Linked DNA regions of Homo sapiens: region 2 is linked to region 1. Evidence: fine-mapped expression QTL. A gene starts in region 1. The other region holds a variant in brackets. All regions are shown on one strand. Distances are from middle to middle.

What was found. PIP is the estimated chance that this variant, and not a neighbour inherited with it, causes the effect.
Region 2: its variant is fine-mapped to the expression of VAPB in blood mononuclear cells (TOPMed, PIP 0.95).

The regions. Positions count from the first base shown.
Region 1 is chr20:58,383,141-58,394,475 of GRCh38, reverse strand. VAPB (VAMP associated protein B and C) reads right to left here and starts at 5,247. Exons shown (of 6, transcript NM_004738.5): 1 at 4,959-5,247. The coding sequence starts at 5,016. RefSeq lists silencers at 4,719-4,838, 5,099-5,538.
Region 2 is chr20:58,432,254-58,443,588 of GRCh38, reverse strand. It overlaps VAPB (VAMP associated protein B and C), which reads right to left. Exons shown (of 6, transcript NM_004738.5): 3 at 8,884-8,987; 4 at 4,564-4,644; 5 at 2,506-2,682. Among named protein-coding and RNA genes, the nearest start is that of VAPB, 49 kb to the right of the region's middle. The variant C/G (reference allele first, on the strand shown) is at 5,704.

The DNA of each region.
Region 1 (11,335 bases):
GCTGTAAAGCACAGTCTGCTCCACGTGATCATGAAGTGTTAAGAAAATCAGTGCCATGCTAAAGCTAAAGAATTAATGCTGTACTTGGCATCTGAAAGATAATTACTGCACTGAATGAACTATATCCACAGGGCTTTAGATTTTTTAACTTCCTAAACAATCTTAAATTACACATCAACTTGAAGGGCTGAACTAAAGAGTCTAAGCCAACTTTTCCCATACAAAAAACAAAACAAAACAAACAACGTCCTTAAACTATCATTTAGAGTGTCCAAGTTTCTATTTTCTCCCAAAAGTGGTACTCAACTACACTGATTCATTGGTGCCCTCCCATCTGAGATCCCTACTAATGGCAGGACTATCTAAGACTTCTTGAAGGTCATTGGTTCAGTCAAGCAATAAAGCAAAAGTAAATGCATCCACAGTTATGTTTAAACCTTAACCGGCTGGGTGCAGTGGCGCACACCTATCATCCCAGCACTTTGGGAGGCCGAGGTGGGTGGATCACCTGAGGTCGGGAGTTCGAGACCAGCCTGACCAACAGGGAGAAACCCTGTCTCTATTGAAAGTACAAAATTAGCCGGGCATGGTGGCGCATGCCTGTAATCCCAGCTACTCGGGAGGCTGAGGCAGGAGAAGTGCTTGAACCCGGGAGGCGGAGGTTGCGGTGAGCCAAGATCGCGCCATTGCACTCCAGCCTGAGCAACAAGAGCCAAACTCCATCTCAAAAAAAACAAAACAAAACAAAACAAAACAAAACAAACCTTAACCTAGTGAGGATGGATGTTCAACAGACCATTTCCATGTGACAGTATCATTGCTGGGGGAATGGGCTAGGATGTAAGGAATGATCTAGAGTCCTGAACGACCAAAAAATATATGACATACTATTTACCACAGATGGACTCTCATGGAAGGGGAGGGAGAAGGGAATGAAAGAAGAGTGCTATATAATGCCTTGAAAGTGACTCATTCGGAAAGCTCTCTTTGAGCTGGACAACAAGTGGGATCTCAGAGTGAGGAGATGGCAAGGAAACGATTAGGACTTGGAAGAACTGAGATCAACAGAAAGAGTGACAATTTTAAAAAACTCCTATGACTTAGTGAAAAAGACAAAAAGAAATATAAAAGAAAACACACACTTAGGCTGCATGCAGTGGCTCATGCCTGTAATCCCAGCACTTTGGAAGGCTGAGGCGGGAGGACTGCTTGAGGCCAGGAATTCAAGACCAGCCTGGGCAACATGGCAAGACTCTATCTTTACAAAAAAATTTAAAAATTAGCCAGGAATGGTGGCATCTGTAGTCCTAGCTACCAGGGAACCTAAAGCAGGAGGATCTCTTGAGCCCAGGAGTTTGAGGCTACAGTGAGCTATGATGGCACCACTGCCCTCCAGCCTGGGTGACAGAGCAAGACCCTGCCAAAAAACAAAAACATTTACTCTCTCAGAAAGATACCCCTAGTCTGAAAGAGCTTAATGTTCACTTACTAAAAATATCTCATGAAAGTCAACCTTAAGTCTAGGCAAATCCTCCTGTGTCATGCTTCTTTCAGGAAGCCACCAGGCTTTCTCCTTTTGATATTTATGATGCAGCATAGTACTTCCTATAAAACTGCATAAAGTCATATAAATTTGCATTCTTTTTCTTCTGTAACATCCTTAAATTTAACATACCACACAAAATTCCCAAGATTAAAGAGTCTGACAATATACAATCCCATACGATCAACTTAGGCTGCATTTAAAAGATAATTTTTCCTTTGAATGGGCATTTTAGTTATTACCTTCTCAAGTAAAGTTAGCTCAGAGGTTCATCTAGGTGAACGACCAGAAATCAGAGTCGTCACCCTGAGTAACCTGGAAGAAACCAGTTAAATGTGCCATTTCTCATCCTGAAATGAATTATCTCTAAGTCAGGGTATTCAGTCTCTATTAATTGTACTGTCTTAGCATTCAGTTTAAAACAAACAAACAACACACCTCATGACGTCATTTAAGAACACACACAGATGTCTCTTCTAAAGTTATGAGCCAGAGGCCTTCAACAATTTGGTACCACTTCTCTTGGACCACTTCCCTAGCAAAAATATCCAGTGACTTTGGCATAATTACTTTGGCCAATCCAGGGCCAGAATGATCGCTATTCTCTGCCACACCTTTCAGGTACAGAAGTGATGAAACCACTTAAGTAGTTAAGTGGTTGTCTAATCTCTGTATAGTACTATGCACTTACAAAGCCACTAACAGCCATGTCATTCCTTCTAAACACGTTCTACAAGAGGCAACGTGGACACGAGCATCATCCCCATTGACCGAATAACCACCCCAGGCTTTGAGGAGTGAAGTGGCCTAAGGTCACACATCTTTCAGTAAAACAATTGAACAAAATCTTAAATTTTCTCAAATGAGTGCCTCTTTCCATAACATATTAGACAACAGAGTTTGTACTGGGATTTGGGGGTTTTCAGAAAGTTAATGCAAGGAAGGACTGCTCAAGGAGAAGCAACACAATTTTAACTTGGACACTGGCTGCATCTATGCATAAAGGGACTGAGATCTGACTCTTGTCTACTCACCAGCCTTGTCTCCCATCTTGCCAGGCAACCACAACAAATGTTCTTTGTTGCTGTCATTCAGAACCACTAGTGGTGGCCGGGCTCACGCCTGTAATCCCAGCACTTTGAGAGGCCAAGGAGGGCGGATCACTTGAGGTCCGGAGTTTGAGACCAGCCTGGCCAACATAGTGAAACACCGTCTCTACTAAAAATACAAAATTTAGCCAGGCGTAGTGGCACATGCCTGTATGTAATCCCAGCTACTCAAGAGGCTGAGGCAGGAGAATCACTTGAACCTGGGAGGCAGAGGCTGCAGTGAGATGGCGCCTCTGCACTCCAGCCTGGGTGACAGAGTGAGAACTCTATCTCAAAAAAAAAAAAACTACTAGTGGCATCCCAAAGGAGCCCAGTCATCTCAGTGTTTGTGCCTCTGTGCATGCAATTTCCTCTGTCTGAAATGTTCCCCACCCTTTCCTTCTTTGAGCCTTCTTCTACTCGACCTTTATAACTGAGCTCAAATGACACCTCTTTCAGGAGTTGACCTCCTCAATGCTCCTGGAGCACTCTGGACTACCCTACATCATTGTCCTGTCCTGGCTGTTATTCTCATCTGCCCCCTTCCCTAAAGTACTGGGAGGAGGTTGAGGGAAAATAGGAGAGTACAGCTGATATAACTTGGCTTCTCTGGGTATCTGACACACAGATCAGGTACTCAGTAAATGTTTGTGGACTAACCGAATGAACCCACCAATTATCAGGAGAAGCCAAGCCAGGCCTCCCAGATAGAGAAAGAACTTCAGACAACTCAAGTGGAAACTAAGGCTCACTATTTTCACTTTAGCTACCTGGACTTCTTTCCCAATCTGGCATCCCCAGAAGGCCATGAGAACATCATGAAAGCTCAAGTACTATCCTGGAATTACAATCCACGGTAGGTTTGGTGGGGTTTTTCGGTTTTTTCATTTTAATTGGAAAGCCTTTGGTTCTCTGTAAATTCAGAGTTATTTCACATTGTTAACTTGGAAGGCAAAGTGACAGCCACCGTTCTGGAGTATTTCCCAGCGATCAGACAGCAAAACGGTTAAGAGCGTGAACTCTGAAGTCTGGGTTCAAATGTACCATTTGCCAACTGGGTAACTTTGGGTAAGTTACCCTACACTACTTCCCAATAGGACATATAAACTGGAGAGCCTCTGGCCATTCATTCATTCATAAATACCAACTGAGCATCTACTGTGAGTCCGGTGCTAGCGATATAGTGGAGACCCGGCCTTCCAATCTAAAGTACGCTTCCATGGAGTCAGACTGTTCCATTTCCTACACAGCACTTAGCACTATCTGCAATGATCTTGTGTGTTGGTTTGTCTGTCCTCGTCGGAAGGTAAGCTCTGTGAGAGCAGAGGCCTTATCTGTCTTGTGCATCCATCACCTCCCCAGAGCCTCCCACATCACTGGATACACGCAAAAAGAAAGAATGAGCATGTCAGACAAGAACTTTTACCTCGTGGCCCTGGTGAAGGTAGGAAAAAAAAAAAAAAAACAAAAGTAACAACATAGAAAACATAAAGGCACAAATTACAGAGGTAATAGTATCTGGGAGAAACCAGGGTCATGGCTTCCCATCGCCGCAGGTGTTGCTCCAGACAGCTCTGCGGAGAAAAAGGATCCCAGCACCGTGGCAGCCTCCTTGCACCGCAACCAGGAGACAGCATGAGGGACGCAGTGAAAGGAAAATGGGCCCAATCCCATCAGAAGTCCTGAGGAGGTTCATTTGTTGGTTCAACATGTTCATCTGTTGGTTCAACAGGTATTTATTTACTAGGCGTATAATGTGTGCTGGGTACACAGCAGCGAACTGACAAGAGCCTGTCCTCATGCAGTTTCCCTTCTAGTATTGAAACAGTGATTTTGGGTATGAAAAGTGCCGTGCTGACCACGAAACAGTGACGGAATAGGGAATGACAGCAGGTGTGCACGGTGGCTGGGTGGTCACAGCAGGCCTCTCTGAGCAGCTGACACCTCAACTAAGCCCTGAGGTCAACACTGTCACGGAGCAGGGGAAGAAACTTCTAGGCAAAGGCAGCGGCGGAGGCTCACACTAGAGAGGATCACAAACTGGTAAGTTACAAAGTGACAAGTGCCTCGAAGGCAAGTCCCAGGAGGCTGGGGGTCGGGGAGGAGGCGCAGGCCCCGGCTCCCGCACCAGCCCTCTCGGGTCCCGGCCACTCCGGGCAGTTCTGGGGAGCGCGGCGAGCGCCAAGGCCCGGCCCGGCCTCGCCGCCCCCCGCGACAGCGCCGTCGGGGTGGGGACGAGGGCCGACGTCACCCGCCGCGCCGGGCTCCGTCCTTCCAGCACTGGGGCGGAGGCCGCGGGCAGGAAGGTGGCGGCCTCTGGGGCTTACCTCGGAATTTGAGCTCGTGCTGCGGCTCGAGGCTCAGGACCTGCTCCACCTTCGCCATGTTCCTTAGCGGCGGAGCACCTTTGGCGGGGAGACCCCTGAGAGGTCACCGGGGCGGGAAGCGTTAATGCTGCGCCCGCTTTAAGTTTTACAAAAAGGCGGGGACCGGTCGGGGCACGGGCGGGGGTCCTCTACCGGGTGGGCGCGCTGGGGGGGGGTCGGTCTACGCGGTGCAGGCGCAGGGGCGGAGGGCGAGGGCGAGGCCGCGGTGCCCGGCGAGCTGACGGCACGCACGCACGCACGCACGCACGCAGAGTCGTACACACGCACGCACGCAGCAGGCTGGCCCGCTCTGGCGGCGGGAAGCTGCGCCCTGCGCCGCCGGCTCCAGGGGCGGGGACTAAAGCTGCGCGCGTAGAGCCCCTTCCGGGACAGTGCGCAGGCGCGGCACAAGCCACGGGGGCGGGACTGCGGGGCAGTAAGGGGCGGGGCTTCGGGCCGCTCAGGAGGCGGGGTCTGTAGTCCAGCTACGACAGCCACCGCGGAAACTATTAAGGGCCCGCTGGGGGCCAGCTTCGTGTTAAGTGCTTTATTCAATAATAACAATTAGAATAAACTTCCACTTTTCTCTTGCTTATGTAGTGCCAGGCACTGTTAGAGACTTTGAATAATAGTGAAAGTACTTAGTATAAGTATAATGTTTATGGGTGAGTGATATGGGCTAGGCACTGTGACGTCTTGTAAATAATAATTATAAATATAATAAACTACCAATTATTGCTTATTTATTTTGTATCACTCTACTGAATGCTTCCAATAACAACAGCAACTACAATAAATACAAGCTACTCTACGTTAAATGTTTACTATGCAACTGGCACTGTGCTGAATTCTTTACTAGTAAATTCTATTTGTTTATGCAACAAATATTTAGAAATACAATGATCAGAAAAGCGAACCTGATTCCAATCCTTTTACTATAGCCTAGTGAAGAGACATCTTTTGAATAAATAACCACACACGTAAGTTAAATAATTAAAAATTGCTGGAGAATCCAGATCTGCTTGACCTCAAAAGTGGATACTCTACATCATGATTACCGTTTAAATTGTATTTCATTATATTATGTTTACTATGGAAGTTAAATAGGTGTTCTTAATAGTCTCCTATACATACCCATATAGGTGAGACAAATGTGGCAAATTGCTAGCAATGGCTGACTCTACATCGCAGGTATATGGTTTTCTTGTACTGTTTCTCCCACTTTGCTGTATACTTGAAATTTTTCATGATAAAAAGGTTTTTTAAAAGAATAGTCTTTGTATTTTAACTGGAGCATTTAGTCCATTTACATTTATTATATTTACTGATATATCTGGAATTATTTCTACCATTGTATTTTGTTATTTCTATTTGTCCTGCCTGGTTTTTTTCCCCTTTCCTTTCTTCTTTAGGGTTTATTTTTATTCTCATTCTGATTTTCTTCACCTGTATACTCTATTTCTAAGTTTTAGTGGTTACTTCAAACTTTTGGGCATGCATACTTACCTTGTGAAAGTCCAATATCTTTAAATATTTGTAAAAATGTCTTTACCCTGTTTCCTTAAAATATAAAGACTTTGGAGTACTTTAATCACCCATCCTCTAAATTATACACCTTAATGTAGTGTATGTTAAGTTTAACCTTTGCCACTGTAACCCCAAGAGACATTACTAAATTGTTTTATTCAGTCAACATTAGTTTAGATTCAGCCACACAATTACCATTTTTATCCACCTTTTCTTCTTGCATCTCAGCTTTCACCAACAGGATCACTCTCCTTTTGCCTGAGGTAAATCCTTTAAATTTTATTTTTTTGTAGCTTCGTTGGTGCAAATCCTCTCAGTTTCTGCTCATCTGCAAATGGATTCATTTTTGCCTTTTGTTGTTTTTATTTTATTTATTTATTTATTTGGAGATGAGGTCTTGCTCTGTTGCCCATGCTGGAGTGCAGTGGCATGATCGTGGCTCACTGCAACCTGTATCTCCCAGGCTGAAACAATCCTCCCACCTCAGACTCCGGTGTAGCTGGGACTAAAAGCATGCACCACCACGCCCAGCTAATTTTTTTATTTTCTGTAAAATCTCACTATGTTGCCCAGGCTGGTTTCAAACTCCTGGGCTCAAGTGATCCTCCTGCTTCAGCCGCCAAAGTGCTAGGATTACAGGCATGAGCCACTGCGCCTGGCCTTGCCCTTGTTCTTGACAGATATTTTGGCTTGCTTGCTTGAATGACAGCTGTCCTCTCTCAGCACACTTGATTGCCATCCACTGTTTGCCTGTTCCCCCTCATTGCTCCTCAGGAGTCCAGTGACAATCTTAACATCGTTCCTTCATAGGTTGTTGGTCTTTTCTCCCTCTTCTCATGTTCTACAGTTTTACCATGCTGTATCTTTTTTTTTTTTTTTTTTTGAGACGGAGTCTCGCTCTGTCCCCCAGTCTGGAGTGCAGTGACGCCATCTCAGCTCACTGCAACCTCCGCCTCCCATGTTCAAGCGATTCTCCTGCCTCAGCCTCCTGAGTCGCTGGGATTACAGGCACGCACCACCATGCCCAGCTAATTTTTGTGTTTTCAGTAGAGACAGAGTTTTGCCATGTTGGCCAGATGGTCTCAAACTCCTGACCTCAGGTAATCCACCCACCTCGACCTCCCAAAAAGTTGGGATTACAGGCGTGAGCCACCATGCCCAGCTCATGCTGTTATCTTTTTATTTATCCTGCCTTGAGTTCTTTGGGCTTTCTGAATTTGATGATTGGTGTCTTTCATTATTCTTGAAAACTCTCAGACAATACTTTTTTTTTTTCAATTTAATTTTACTTTTTTATTGTGGTAAGATACACATCACATAAAATTTACTCTCTATCATTTTTAAGTATCCAGTGGTATTAACAAGATTCCTATTGTGGTGCGACCTCACCATCATCCATCTCTAGAGCTCCCTTCATCTTGCAAAACTAGAACTCTGTACCCCTTAAGCAATCATTCCCCATGCTCCCTCTCCTAAGCCCCTGGCAACCATCATTCCACATCCTGCCTCTGTGAATTTGACTAGTCTAGGTACTTTTTGTAAGCAGAATCATACAATACTTGTCGTTTTGTGACTGGCTTATTTTGCCCAGCATAAAGTCCCCAAAGTTCATCCGTGTTGTATCATACGTGACAATATCTCTGTTAAATGTTATCTTGGATGGACACAGTGGTTCATGCCTGTAGTCTCAGCAATTTAGGAGGTCAAGGCGGGCAGACTGCTTGAATCCAGGAGTTCAAGACCAGCTTGGGCAACATGGTAAAACCCCATCTCCACAAAAAATACAAAAAAAAAAAAAAAAAAATTAGCCACGCATGGTGGTGCATGCCTGTAATCCCAGTTACTCAGGAGGCTGAGGTGGGAGGACTTGAGCCCAGGAGGTGGAGGCTGCAGTGAACCATTATACCATTGCACTCCAGCCTGGGGTAACAGAGTGAGATCCTGTCTCAAAAAAAGAAGAAATAAAAATAAATGTTATCTCAACCTCGTTCTCTCACTCTTTACATCTTGTAGTGTGATTAGTAGTTATTCAACTAATATTTTTCAAACTGTAGGTTGTTTTCCAACAGTGGCTTATAAAATCAATGTAGTAGATTGTTACCAGTGTTGAGAAAGAACGAGAATATAATATATTGGAGTGTATTGTATTATTTCATGAATCTTTTGTTTCAGTTGTATTTATTAATATACACATATCTATGGAGTGAGTCACAACTAAAATACATTTATTACTGTGGATTGTGAAAGAAAAAGAGAAAAGTCTTGTGCCCTTCTCCATGTCTATTAACCTCTCTATCACATCTTAATCTGTCCTCTTTATGTTCCACGTTCTGGATAGTTCTTCAGATCTTTCTTCTAGTCACTAATTATCTCTTAGGCTATTGATAAACCTGTTTCAGGAGTTTTTCATTTTGTTTATTTTTTTTTAAGCCTATAAGTTCTATTTTGTTCTTTTACATATCCAAGTAGTTATAGGTTGTGTTTTTTCTTTTTTTTTAATTATTATTTGAGACAAGGTCTCCCTCTGTTGCCCAGGCTGGAGTTTAGTGGTGTAATGTTGGCTCACTGCAGCCTCTACCTCATGGGCTCAAGCCATCCTCCCACCTCAGCCTCCCGAGTAGCTGAAACTACAGGTAGGCACCACCACACCCGGCTAATGTTTGAAAGTTTTGTAGAGATGGGATTTCACCACATTACCCAGGCTGGTCTCGAGCTCCTGAGTTTATGCAATCCGCTCGTCTCAGCCTCCCAAAGTGCTGAGATTAATGGCATGAGCCACTGTGCCTGGCCACATTTATAGGTTTTTTAACACTGGTTCCCAGCTCCTCTGCCCTCCCCCAGGGAATGGTGCCATAACAAAGCTTTAGTGTTGGTCTCTTCTGCCGGGTCACTTTGGTAAGGGGAAGCCCATGTTCCTAAGCCCATACAGAGCCTCCACACCTGCCACCATGGCCACTGCATAAATAAGCTCATTGAGCACGCAATGGCACAGCTGTGGGAAAGACTGACTGTTGTCTGCAGAATGTGCCCTCTTGTCCACTCAATTAATAGAGTTGCTGCTGCAGTAGATGTCTTTGAGTGGGCATTCACATGAGACACCAGTGTCTTTTTTTTTTTAATTTAGAGGCGGAGTCTTGCTCTGTTGCCCAGGCTGGAGTGCAGTGGCACGAACTCGGCTCACTGCAACCTCCACCTCCTGGGTTCAAGCAATTCTCCTGCCTCAGCCTCCCAAGTAGCTGGGATTACAGACGCCCACCACCACGCCCGGCTATTTTTTGTATTTTTAGTAGAGACGGGGTTTTACCATGTTGGCCAGGATGGTCTCGAACTCCTGACCTCATGATTCACCCGCCTTGGCCTCCCAAAGTGCTGGGATTACAGGCATGAGCCACAGCGCTTGGCCGAGACACCAGTGTCTTCACACCCATCCTGAGAGGTATCTAGTACCTCCTCCCAGACCTCCTCACCACACATCCACATCTGCTCTCTCCGTCCCTGATCATCCATTACCCAGGGGCCCGTGCACCTCTGTGCTCTTGGTCATTTCTCAGCCACACAAAGTACACAGCCAAACACACTGCTTGAGATTCTGCTAAATGTGTGAATTCCATTTATGTTGTAATCCTGCAGCCCACCCAATTAAAGTTTGAGTATAATTTTCAGCAAGGTCAAAAATCTACAGCTAGGCCAGGTGCGATAGCTCACGCCTGTAATCCCAGCACTTGGGGAGGCTGAGGCGGGTGTATCACTTGAGGTCAGGGGTTTAGGACCAACCTGGCCAACATAGTGAAACCCCGTCTCTACTAGAAATACAAAAAATTAGCTGGGCGTAGTGGGAGCTGCCTGTAATCCCAGCTACTTGGGAGACTGAGGCAGGAGAACTGCTTGAATCCGGGAGGCGGAGGTTGCAGTAAGCCGAGATCATGCCATTGCACACCAGCCTGGGCAACAAGAGCAAAACTCCATCTCAAAAAAAAAAAAAAATCTACAACTACAAGAAATAAAGGATTATTTTAGGGCTCTGTAGAATCTCTCTGGTTCTCTGTGAGTTAAGCTGAGAGTTTAAAGATTGGAGCGTGTCCTTTACTTTCCATAATAGCTCCAGTGAACTCAGAAATAGCTATCTCACCCCATGGTCCTGAAGTCATCACTACCATGTAAGTGTGGCAGTCCCATGGCTCTCCATGCCCTTACTTCAGTGGGAACATTGTCACAATCAAATGATATTAGTAGTGATGTCAGTATGAGCCATTGATTACTTGTAATCACTGGTGTGTAATAAACTGGCTCTCTTGGGGAGAAATAATATCTGTAGTTTTTGCAGATTCCTTTTATTTCCTTTTCTTTGTTTTTTTGTTTGGTTGGTTGGTTGATTTCTTTTTTTTTTTTTTTTTTGAGACAGGGTCACACTCTGTCACCCAGGACAGAGTGCAGTGGTATGATCATAGCTCATCATAACCTCAAACTTCTGGCCTCAAGTGATCCTCCTGACTCAGCCTCCCAGCATGCTGGGATTACAGCTGTGAGCCACCATGCCCAGCCAGGTTTTGCAGATTTCTATGGTATAAACACTCCCACCATGACTGATTTTAGGCTGCCAATGGGATGTCACTGAACAGAGTTGAAAAGAGGTGTGTGTGACTGGCTCTCACCAGCTGGTATTCAGCACACCTGTGCTTGTATTCCATATTTCACAGGCACTGCAGTCAAGCATGAGGATGTGGCCAATCCAATCCCAGAATCCCTTCTTTGAGAGTCTGTTTCCTGGGACCACTCTTGGTACCAAGTGCTCTGTTAGTCAAGGTCCAGCC
Region 2 (11,335 bases), 49 kb before region 1:
CAACTGGGCACGGTGGCTCATGCTTGTAATCCCTGTACTTTGGGAGGCTGAGGCGGGTGGATCACCTGAGCTCAGGAGTTCAAGACTACCCCTTGGTCAACATGGTAAAACCTCGTCTCTACTAAAATTACAAAAATTAGCCTGGGGTGACAGAGTGAGACTCCATATTAAAAAAAAAAAAAAAAAAAAACCTAAAAGTGGGACATCTGGAAGCTTTCAAATGCAGAGCTCTGTAGATAGCTGGTACTTAATGAGTTACATCCAGACTGCTGGATCAAATGATATTTGGAATATTAAAATGTGACTGGCCTTCATACACTCATCTCAAATATTTTCTACTTAATGCATAGATTTCTCATTGAAGAAGCAACATTCTTTTTCATACATATAAAGATATTTGACCATATTCCCCACCCTCCCCTTGTCCCCAAACTACATGGAAATGTAAGAAATGAAAAATTTTTTCTTCCTTCACCTCCACTGCCACAACTGCCTTGCACTTTCCTAAGAATCTGCAAGTTACTATGTAGATCTATGATGCCATTTCCATGCTCTCAAAGCCAAGCCCACATCCCTGAAGAGGGACATGCATCAAGCCATTCTATTCTGGCACAGACTCATCTTTGCTGATAGATCTCTTGCTAATTACCTCATCTCCTCATCCTTAAACCCCACACACCAGCTGTACTTTCTTTTCTTCGTTTCCTTCCATTCGCTCCCATCCGCCCGAGTACCTAGTAGGTCCTGGGGACCACAGGCAGATGAGTCCCATGGAGCTGACTCTCCCTGCAATTTGTTGCTATCTCTGTGGGACATTGATCACACTGGCTTGTAATCACTTCTGTCTATGTCTCTCCCTGCTATCCCAACAACAGAGAGCTCCTCAAGGGCAGGGGCTGTTCGTGTTTGAATCCACAGTGCCGGGCACATATTAGACCCTCAGTAAATTTGTTGGCCAGATGACAGAATAAACCAACACAAAACAAGAAGGCAGTGTTTGGCAGGATAAAGAATCTTCTAATGTTGAGATTGGTCTGATCATATTTTAAGGATATTCTGCTCATGGGGCATGGCCCGTATCACTGCACAGTGATAAACAACTGGTGGTGTCCGACTGGCTTAAAAAAAAACCCGGCAAACTAAACCATTTATTTTATTAGGTTATATAGAAGCTATTTCTACCTATTTACCACTTTAAATAGCACAGAACTCTGTTTCAGAAGAGAAATACACTCGAGAAGCTTCAGGCATAGCTTAGATTTTTAGCCAAAAAGTAGTGTCAGCTTCACAATTTACTACACACTAAAGAAATTACTGACTGAGGCAAATCAAAATCACTGCAAAGGAAGAAGATGATGCCATTTCCCAAATGCTGTCAGTTCTCCTATATCTACCTCACTGTCAGAGTAAAAGAGAAGAAAACTCATACTTTTAAAGCTGGAAGGGGCCTTAGAGGTGTTTAGCAAACAGAGGCCTAAGAGATGCTGTGACCAGCACAGATTCAGAGCTGTTTCATATTGGATGGGAGCAACTTCCACACCACCACAAGCCAAAAGAAGCACCCCCTGCCTCCCCACTTCATCACTCAGTACAATACAACCTTCCATTGCCAATGCCAACTGCCTCATCCAGAAGCTAGAAGCTCAGATTTTCCTTCCATAATCTCCACCTCCTACCCACTGTGAGGCACCCCACCTCCAAGCTCATCACCACATCAATAGTTTGATGAGCCACAACTGCCCAGACCTATTTAGAGTCTTCTAAAATCAGAACTATACTTGCATTAAAACAGAGTATAGGTCAGTATTCACTCTCTGAAAAAAGATTCTCACCCAAGTGGTTTAAAAATGCATATTCAAAATAAAAACTATTTTGGTCTCAACATTTATTTTCAATTTACAATAATGGAGAGTTTGAGTTGTTTGGGGTTTTGTTTATTTTGTTTTTGAGACGAAGTCTAGCTCTGTCACCCAGGCTGGAGGGCAGTGGCACGATCTCAGCTCACTGCAACCTCCGCCTCCTGGGTTCAAGCGATTCTCCTGCCTCAGCCTCCCGAGTGGCTGGAATTACAGGCACCTGCCACCACACCCAACTAATTTTTTGTATTTTTTATTAGAGACGGGGTTTCACTTTGTTGGCCAGGCTGGTCTTGAACGCTTGACCTTGTGATCGGCCCGCCTTGGCCTCCCAAAGTGCTGGGATTACAGGCGTGAGCCACCGCACCCGGCCAAGTTTTTTGTTTTTGTTTTTTTTTTTAAGGGGACAAGAGCTTCAACAGTTGAGAAATTTCTGATCAAGGGACAGTGGTTCTTAATTTAGGCAGATCCAAGGACCCTTTTGAGACTCTCATGAAAGCCATGGAAATTTCTCCCTGGGGAGAAAAAAATAGCCAAATACCAAAAGCAAAAAGAAATCTATATATTCACTGGCTCATCAACTTCCCCACCCAAGAAGCTAGTGAAAACGCCCTTGTTTTCTGTAGATTACCAGAAAATAAACTATTACCTTGAACTGCTTGTTCTCCTCCCGTAGCCTCTGAACTTCACCTTGCAGCCTCTTACATTCTTCCATAACCTTCTTAACTTCGGTGTCATCCAAAGAAGAACTCAGAGACTTAGACACTATTGGTGTTTCTGTCTTTGATGCAGTTGTGGATATAATTTTATTTATTTCTACATCATGCTGTTCAAAAACAAATGAAAGCCTAAGTGTCACCGACCATGTAATAATGGACTTTTTTATGCAAAGTAAAGTAGTTCTCAGCAAACACCAAACGTGGTAGCATTTCATCCACACTGTAAAATGTCACATTTATTTTAAAAATGGATTACTTTATCTGATATCTTAATAATCTAAAGCAACAGGGCCCTAGAAATTATGGATAAGGGCAAATAATGAAGTTCGGCTGAGACTAATACTTCAAAGAAAGAGAAAAAGGGCTGTGTATATTGCACTATCAAATTCCTGCCACGGAAAAATCAGCATACTGTAATTGTGCAAGCTCAGGAATTATTAGCCACAAATTACTGTCACCACAAAGATGTGAACATCCCTAGGATTGCCTTAGTGGGGTTAGGAGGCTTGGGAGAGCATTAGACAGAGGGCGAATTACTTTACCAACTTAGCATTTGGAAGCTGGGATGAAGGTGAAACAAACTCAGTGTCTGCAATGTTTCAATCTTGGGAAGTTACATACTCCCCTTATTTCCCCTGCCAAGATTCAGCTATGATCCCCTCTTGAGATTTACAGGGGATGAGAGCCAGTCAGTGGAGGGAGGGCATGGAAGCACGCAGCTTGTCAGGGAAAGAGTAACTGACGATCATTGGCCTGGAATCTAGCTCTACCCATCATTTTCCAGATGAGAAGAGTAGGCCCTGTGAAGCAAGGCCCCAGGCTACCAAGTCAACCTATCACAGAGCTGAGGCCAGAATACTGCTTTCACAGCTTCCAAACTGACCTTCCTGTGACAGGATGTACACTGGGAAGAGGGAAAAAATGACCACTATCCACTTAAAGAAACAGGGTAATGATAGTGGTAAATGATTCAGCAGAAATAAAATCTCAGGTAGTTTTGACACAAATCAACAGCACTCGCGCAGACCAACATAGATACTGTTAACACAACATTTCAGGGTACTTCTGTTTCCCAACTCCAGCTATTAATGGCTAGGATAGTTTCACATGCTGCATGCTTTCACAGTTTTGGTGTTTTTATAAAAATTAAAATGTTTTCGACTAGGTTGAAGGGAAGTCCAAATTAGCATTTCAGATACAGTCTCCTTTCTTCAACTGGTCACAAGTGAGGATCATGAAAGGTAAAGCGCTCACAGTGGACAGCCTAGAGGATGGGGCTCCTTCCTTCTCCCCACAGGCAACACCGGAATGGGATCACTCTCAATGGGGGTTGATATTGCCCTCCAGGACACATGTGGCAATATCTGGAGACATTTTTAGTTGTCACAACTGGGAAGTACTACCAGTATCAAGAGGGCAGAAGCCAGGGATGCTGCTATTAATAAAACACCCTACAGTACACAGGGCAACCTCCACCACCACCAAGGATTTGCCCCAAATATCAACAGTGTTGAGGCTGAGAAATCCTCATCTAAAAGCAGCCTTTGATTGAAGAGGTAGATAGGGTAAAAGGGGTAGGGAGGCTGACAGGGCACTTTGTAAAACAAGAGAACTTGAAAGCTTCCCACACGTCCATCAACCACCATGATAAAGGGCAAATTGTTCCCTCTTTCACTCTCACCCACTGTTTAACAGCAACCTATACCTTTGCCAGGCCACAGAAGCTCTTCAGGATTTATGACATCTCAATGGCCATCGGGCTGCACTTTTCAAGGGGAAACACTGTCAATCAGTTGTCTTTCCGTGAGTTTTTCAAAGGCTGATTTCATAAAGGCCCACTTATTTGCTGACTTCAGCTTATTTTTTTTCTTCAGACATCAGATAAAGGAAAATAATTTGCCAACTTAAATCTTGGTTTTGCAGGAAATGGTATGCAAATAAGTATCAGCTTACAACATTCAATTATTGTTAACTATAAATATACTTACTGGTTTATCATTCTCTGCTGGCAATTCAAACACACATCTAAGTTTTGAATCCATAAGGTCTTCCGGTTTTGCCTCCTTCCACTAAAACAATTTAAATTTAATAATCAAGATATTATAAACCTGCTGGAAGAATAACTTTCTTCCTATAACTGACAATTTCAGAAAAATACTCTTAATGAGAAAGCCCTGATGTATATCAAATAAAGAACTGAAGTCTGCTGAGATTTCAATATTTGTAACATGACAAGATTAAATACACTCACTTTCTCAAAATATTACACTTCATAAACCCTGAAGTCTTGCTGCCTGACTCCTCAAAGTCAACCAATGCTCCCCATGTTGCTACTCTGTGGGACAGGCCCACCACTGAACAAAAAGGAATCCTCTAAACAATGTCTGGATGACCAGGTAACCTTGGCTCTCCTTATGAAAATAAAACTTGTTTTCAGCTGGGCATGGTGGCTTATGCCTGTAATCCCAGCACTTTGGGAGGCTGAGGTGGAGGGACTGGTTGAGCCCAGCAGTTTGAGACCAGTCTGCACAACGTAAGGAGACGTCATCTCTACAAAAAAATTAAAAAATTAGCTAAGCATGGAGGCACATGCCTGTGGTCCCAGCTACTCAGGAGGCTGAGGAGGGAGGATCACTTGGGCCCAGGAGGTGGAGGCTGCAGTGAGCCATGATCATGCCACTGTACTCCAGGCTGGGGGACACTGAGAGACTCTGTCTCAAAAATAATAAATTAAATTAAAATGAGAAAATGAAACTTATTTTAAAGGCATATCTAGAAAGTATAAGCGCATACTATCTGGGACTAGTTTCAGAACCACTCTGCCAACTACCAACGGAACACATTCATTACCAAATCCCTCCTCTGTCACTGTGGCAGTGTGTGGGCTGTGTCTACCCCAAGACCCATCTCCATCCCTCCAGGCTGTAGTGAGAGCACCTTCCTAGCTAAATCCCATGTCCTAAGAGGATACGCTCCTGATTACTTCTCCTTTTGGCAGCAGAAGATGGGAATTCCAGGGTATTCTAGGATTACAGACCAGGATAGCAGCAAGGTTATGATATAGAAAAAGAAGGCACCCCCACCCTCCATGCCCTCAACCCTTCCCAAAACCATGCAAGAGGCAGCTA[C/G]TGTAACACAGGTACCAAGAACCAAAAGTGGGAAGCAATCTATACATCTGACCCTAGGGGACTGCCACAAAAATTATGGCAGATCCACTAAACGGAACAGCATGCTGCCACTCAAATGATGCTGAAGAGCACTCAGTTAGATGGAGAAAATGTCCAGAATGTTAAGTGAAAAAATCGCAAAGAATACTGAAGTCTGCTCCTCTGCACACACACACCTGTACACGTGTGCCTACCACATAAGTCAAAAAAAATATCAAGCAAGGATCATCACTGAATGCTAAAAGCACCAGGTGAAAGACTGCTGGCGAGCAGGATATTCACATGGTCTCAAAGTATCAGATGACTCAGAGTATCACAGATTACCTATTAACCACAGGGGCAAATGTGCTTTGTGCTATGACAGTGGAGAGAGCTGGCAGTCACCATCTTAACCAAGTGATCAAACAGCATCACCAACAGCGGAACAACCTGGTATGAAATACCAACTATGGAATATTCTTGCCAAAACACATTTAACTTGAATTTAATCATGAGGAAATAATCAAATAAATCCAGAATACAGGACATTCTGTAAGTCAACTGGCCTGGACTCTTAAAAAAAAAAAGAAGTTCAAAGTTTGGGCAGGGTGCAGTGGCTCACACCTGTAATCCCAGCACTTCGAGAGGCAGAGGCAGGAGGATCACTTGAGCCCAGAAGTTCAAGACCAGCCTGGGCAACATAGTGAGACCCCAACTCTATAAAAAAATAAAAAAATAGCCGGCATGGTGGCATGCCTGTAGTTTTAGTTACTCGAACAGCTGAGGTGGAGGTCAAGCCATGACTGCACCACTGCACTTCAGCCTTGGTGACAAAGCAAGACTTTGTCTCAAAAAAAAAAAAAAAAAAAAAAAAAGTTCAAAGTTTGAAAAACAAAAAGGTTTGGGTGTCCTCTACTAAAGGTCACTTTTGGAACAACTAGGAAATAATGAATATGAATTTATCACATAATAATACTGAATTGAAGTTACTTTTTTCAGCTATGATTAATAGTATCATGACTATATAAGAGACTGTCCTTGCTCTGAAGCATTTAGGGGTGAAGTGTCATAAATTTGCATCTCAAGCAAATAAGAAAGTTTGTGACAGAAAGGAAGCAAATGTCACAACATGTTAACAAATGTAAATCTAGGTAAAAGTTATATGAGTGGTCACCATGCTATTTTTTCAACTTTCTGTATATCACAATAAAAAGAAAAACATTTTAAAATAAAGAAAAAGCAGGCTGGGGCAGTGGCTCATGCCTGTAATCCTACCACTTTGGGAGGCTGAGGTGGGCAGATCGCTTGAGTCCAGGAGTTTGAGACCAGCTTGGGCAACATGGAGAAAACCTGTCTCTACAAAAAAATTAGCCAGGCATGGTGGTGCGCTCCTGTGGTCCCAGCTACTTGGGAGGCTGAGGTGGGAGGATCACTTGAGCCCAGGAGGTGGAGGCTGCAGCGAGCTGAGATCACTCCACTGCATTCCAGCCTAGGTGACACAGTAAAATCATGTCTCCAAAAAAAAAAAAAAAAAAAAAAAGGAAGAAAAACACAAAGCTCTCATTTCTCATTAATGATGGTTAGGCCTAGTAGAAAAGAACTATGGGTCACTTTAAATTTTTTTCATTTGTGTATTTCCAAAATTTCCCACAATGTACATTTTATATAAAAAAAATTTAAACTTATATCATCATACAAGGAACTAAAATGACCCTTTACTAGATATGCAGTGACTGGCCTATTACACACTCTGATAAGCAAGTGTCAGACACTGGACCCACCAGGCACTTACACAGGCACACTTCATACTCACCACTGTGTGAGCTGCATTTTTATCCCTATTTTACAAATGATCAAAACCTCAACAGAGTTAATAAAACCTGCTCCCAGCCACAACGTCAGTAAAAGGAAGAACTCAGCTCGAAAACACCCAAGCCCATGCTCTTTTCACTATGCCATGCAGCAGAAGCCAAACAGAACACACCCTTGGATCTTCCATTATTTTCTATCTGCCATGTTTCTTTGATCACACAAATTAACATGAAGTAACACATCATGTTGCAGAAAATCAGAGAAAGTTTTCATAAGAATTGTTCTTATGAAAAGAAGACAGCCTATTATCACTGATCTCTCTAAAAGTCAAAAATATCTGGCCTCCTCCTTCATTTTCTGCCTACAAGTGAAACATCAGCGGAGATGCTTCTCCAGAACTTAAACAAAAGGCTATGTGGTGACATAGGGCATGGGGTGGTCTTGGCCTGAGTTGCCCTTGGTATGAAACTCAGACAGAGGAGAACTGCAGTATGGTGTGATGAACAGCGGACTCAGGTGGGCAGACCTGCCGTGGATGACTCGGGGCTCCCCTTTGGGCGGGCCAAAACTGGAGAGCAATGCAAGTGGTATGAGGCAACCCTGTCCTGCTTTCCTGAACTGTAAGGACAAGCGCATCTGTCCCTGCTGGGGCTGTGGGTTGTATTGTAGATTTCAATTCAACTCCCAGCCCCAGAATGCCAATGGACTTATTCAAATGTATAAAAAGCTCGTTTTGGAGGGAATGTCCATTATACTCTTTTTTTTTTTTCCAAAACCATCACTAACATCACTTATTTCTTTTATAAAAATGAAGTCATCTTAATTTTATCAAAATTAGAGAAAAGTTAAACATAGATTTAAGCAGGGGGGAAAATAAATAAGCATATTTACTAGAACAAAGCCACAAACATGTATGTCTAAATGGGTGAGGACATTCAGCACTGACACTCTCACATGGCTCTTGAGTTTGTGGGGGATGAGAAGACAAGTAAGAAAAAGGCGGGACAATGAAAAGTATCCTTTTCTGTCGGGGCAGAAAGGAGAGGCGAAAGAAGGCAATCCCTAACCATGCAAGACACCATCCACCAGTGCAAGGAGCTGCTGAAGCACACTGAGCTCAGGAAAGTCAGAAAAGAACAGCCTTCTAGAAAGTCACAAAAAATGTTAAAATTATTCCTCAAAGTTTTAGAAAAACCATAAAGGTAGATAAAGTACAAACCTCCTTGAAAAAAAACTATTCCCTTTTAAATAATTTTGACATATTTTGAAATGCATGCACCCACAATTCCATATCTAATTGGTTTTTTAAATTATTGTTACTGAAAAAAATAAGAAGCATTCAGTACTTACTACTGCTTCCATATCTGAAGTGTCAGTTGGAGCAAACATAGACTGAACCATAAACTTGTGTTTACTTTTCTCATTGGGATCATAATCGAAAGGCTGTAACATCACTGAGAAAGAAAATATTTCATTAGGAGGGTCAGAGCTTGGTTGTCAGTGCCATTTATTATGCTAATACTTGTACTTTGGTTGTAAAGCAATTTACCGGCATTCTCTTATGTCTTAGGATGGACGCCCCTGGTGAAGTAAGCAAGGATGACCAACATCTCCATTTTGCAGGTCACCAACCTAAGAGCCACAAAATCACGCATGACAGAGCTGGGAATAAGGCCGAGGACCCAGTCTTCTGATTCCTAGTCCATGGATCTTTCACTACTGCAAGCCTACCGTAAATGTCTGCTACAGGCCTTACAGAATTGGGAAACTGGGTAGCAACACCATCTGCCTGTTTTGCTCAAGAAAACATATCCAAATGATCTCTTCAGGAATTAAATAGAATAATCTAAGATGTTTAAGAACATTTAAGGAACTGTTGTAGCTTCTCTCCAACCCATTTCTCATATAGCTAATCAAGGTAATCCTTGAAATACAATTTTGCCAACATAAAGCTAGAAAATTTTTACAATCAGGACACTCACACAGCAGGGAAAACGGTATCAGCTTATACTCCCCCTTTTTTTTCCCTAAGAACCTAGAGAAATCTCACACAGAGGATCCTGTGGATGAGTCACACCCACTGCATGGAGGGAGGTGCCTTCCTACCCCAAGTGGCTCCCTTCAGCCTACTTCCTAGAGTACAGCTGGGCCTACTCCTATCAAATGATGGCTGCTTTAAAATATGTTACTTTGCTACAAGGCTTTGGCTAACCCACACATCTAGTTAAGTTCCCTGAGACAACTTCACATGCAGGGAAAGCCTACTGTGGCCTTGACCACAACAGTGGGCATGGACTGAGTATCTCCATGTGCCAGAAACTGGGCTCTGTCCCTTAGGTTTACCATCATCTCATTTAATCCTTAAAAAGTAGGTACTATTGTTGGGGGAGAGGGGCTATTCTGGTGTCTACTTTTCACATGAAAAGAATGAACACAGAGAGGTGAATTTGCCCAAGGTTACACCTTGGTGGAGTGCAGACTCAAACCCAGGCAGTTGGTGTGGGGACCTAAGTTCACAGCCACCACAAAGGACTGGTGCCTTGTCCTCTGACAGTACAAGTCTTATGCTTCTCACCAGCAGGGCTTCTACCACCTTTCTGCTGGGCCCTCATCAGCATTCTCTTGCCTTGAAACCCCAACTTAGGACTTCCCAGGTGCTTCCTCTAGAGCCACACAATCAACCACAGCCAGCAGCAGATAGAAAGCAGGATAGCCGTGGTCTACAAATGAAGAATCTGGGATTCCACAAAGTGAAGTGGCTCCCTCAAAGTCACAATGTTAAGAAGTGGCAACACTGGGACAAAGAGCCAAGACTTGACTACAAGTGCAGTCTAGCACCCCTTTCACCACACTAGTCACTCCAATATGAGCTAGATTTATATCTGGCACCCAGGCCCCACGACAAAGCTAATGGAACCATTCACAAAACAGGATAGAAATACCAACCTCCCCCATCCATCTTAGGGATGCAGTAGCACTCTTCACCATGGGAACAGAGAAAGTCCACTGAGACCTAACCATGCATTGGACTTAAATGCACTGGTGTCCCTAGTCACCCAGACAGCTTCACTGCCCACAAGACCCACCTGAAGGCCCTGAGCTACAAGGAAGCCTTGCTGGGAGACTTCTTCAGGACAAAATTCAATAACTGTCAGAGAGTAAACCTTTTATCAACATAACTCTTTCTCTGGCATCACTGAGCTGGCAAGAGCTGACCTTTCCTACAGACAGACCTGGAACATTTACCGACCTGGGCTTGACACTTAACCTCAGGGACAAATGACCAGACTGGCAGGTCAATGCTTTTTCTGAAAGCCAAATTCCCAATGTGTTTTTTTCCTGCCCCTAAGATTGCAATAACGAAAACACACATTTTAAAGTAAAGAGCCAATGTCTTTACATGCTCTGTGAACCTTCCTGGACAGGGACTGTCAACCTTCTTTGGAGCTGGGATTCACTGTTAGATTAATGTTCCCTTTCTAAAATTAAAGTGAATTCAGTTTTAAGAATTTCAGGTCTTCCTTGGCTGTGACAAAATCATGCTCTGGTATTTTTCAGTTTAGGAAAGAAGAGAACTTTGACCTGAACTACTCTTAGATTTTTGGCAGGGCACAGATCTAGTAGTAAACACCGTCTTACCCTTGAGACTCTGTTCTCCCAGCTGTGAACAGCTATTGCACCACTCCCAAGTCTACCACTCTGGAGAGCTCTGAGGAGGAACAAGGTTTATTTGTAAAGATCCCTGATGCTCACATGACAGCAATCCAAGGAAAATGCTAATTTTTAGAGAAGCTATTTAGAT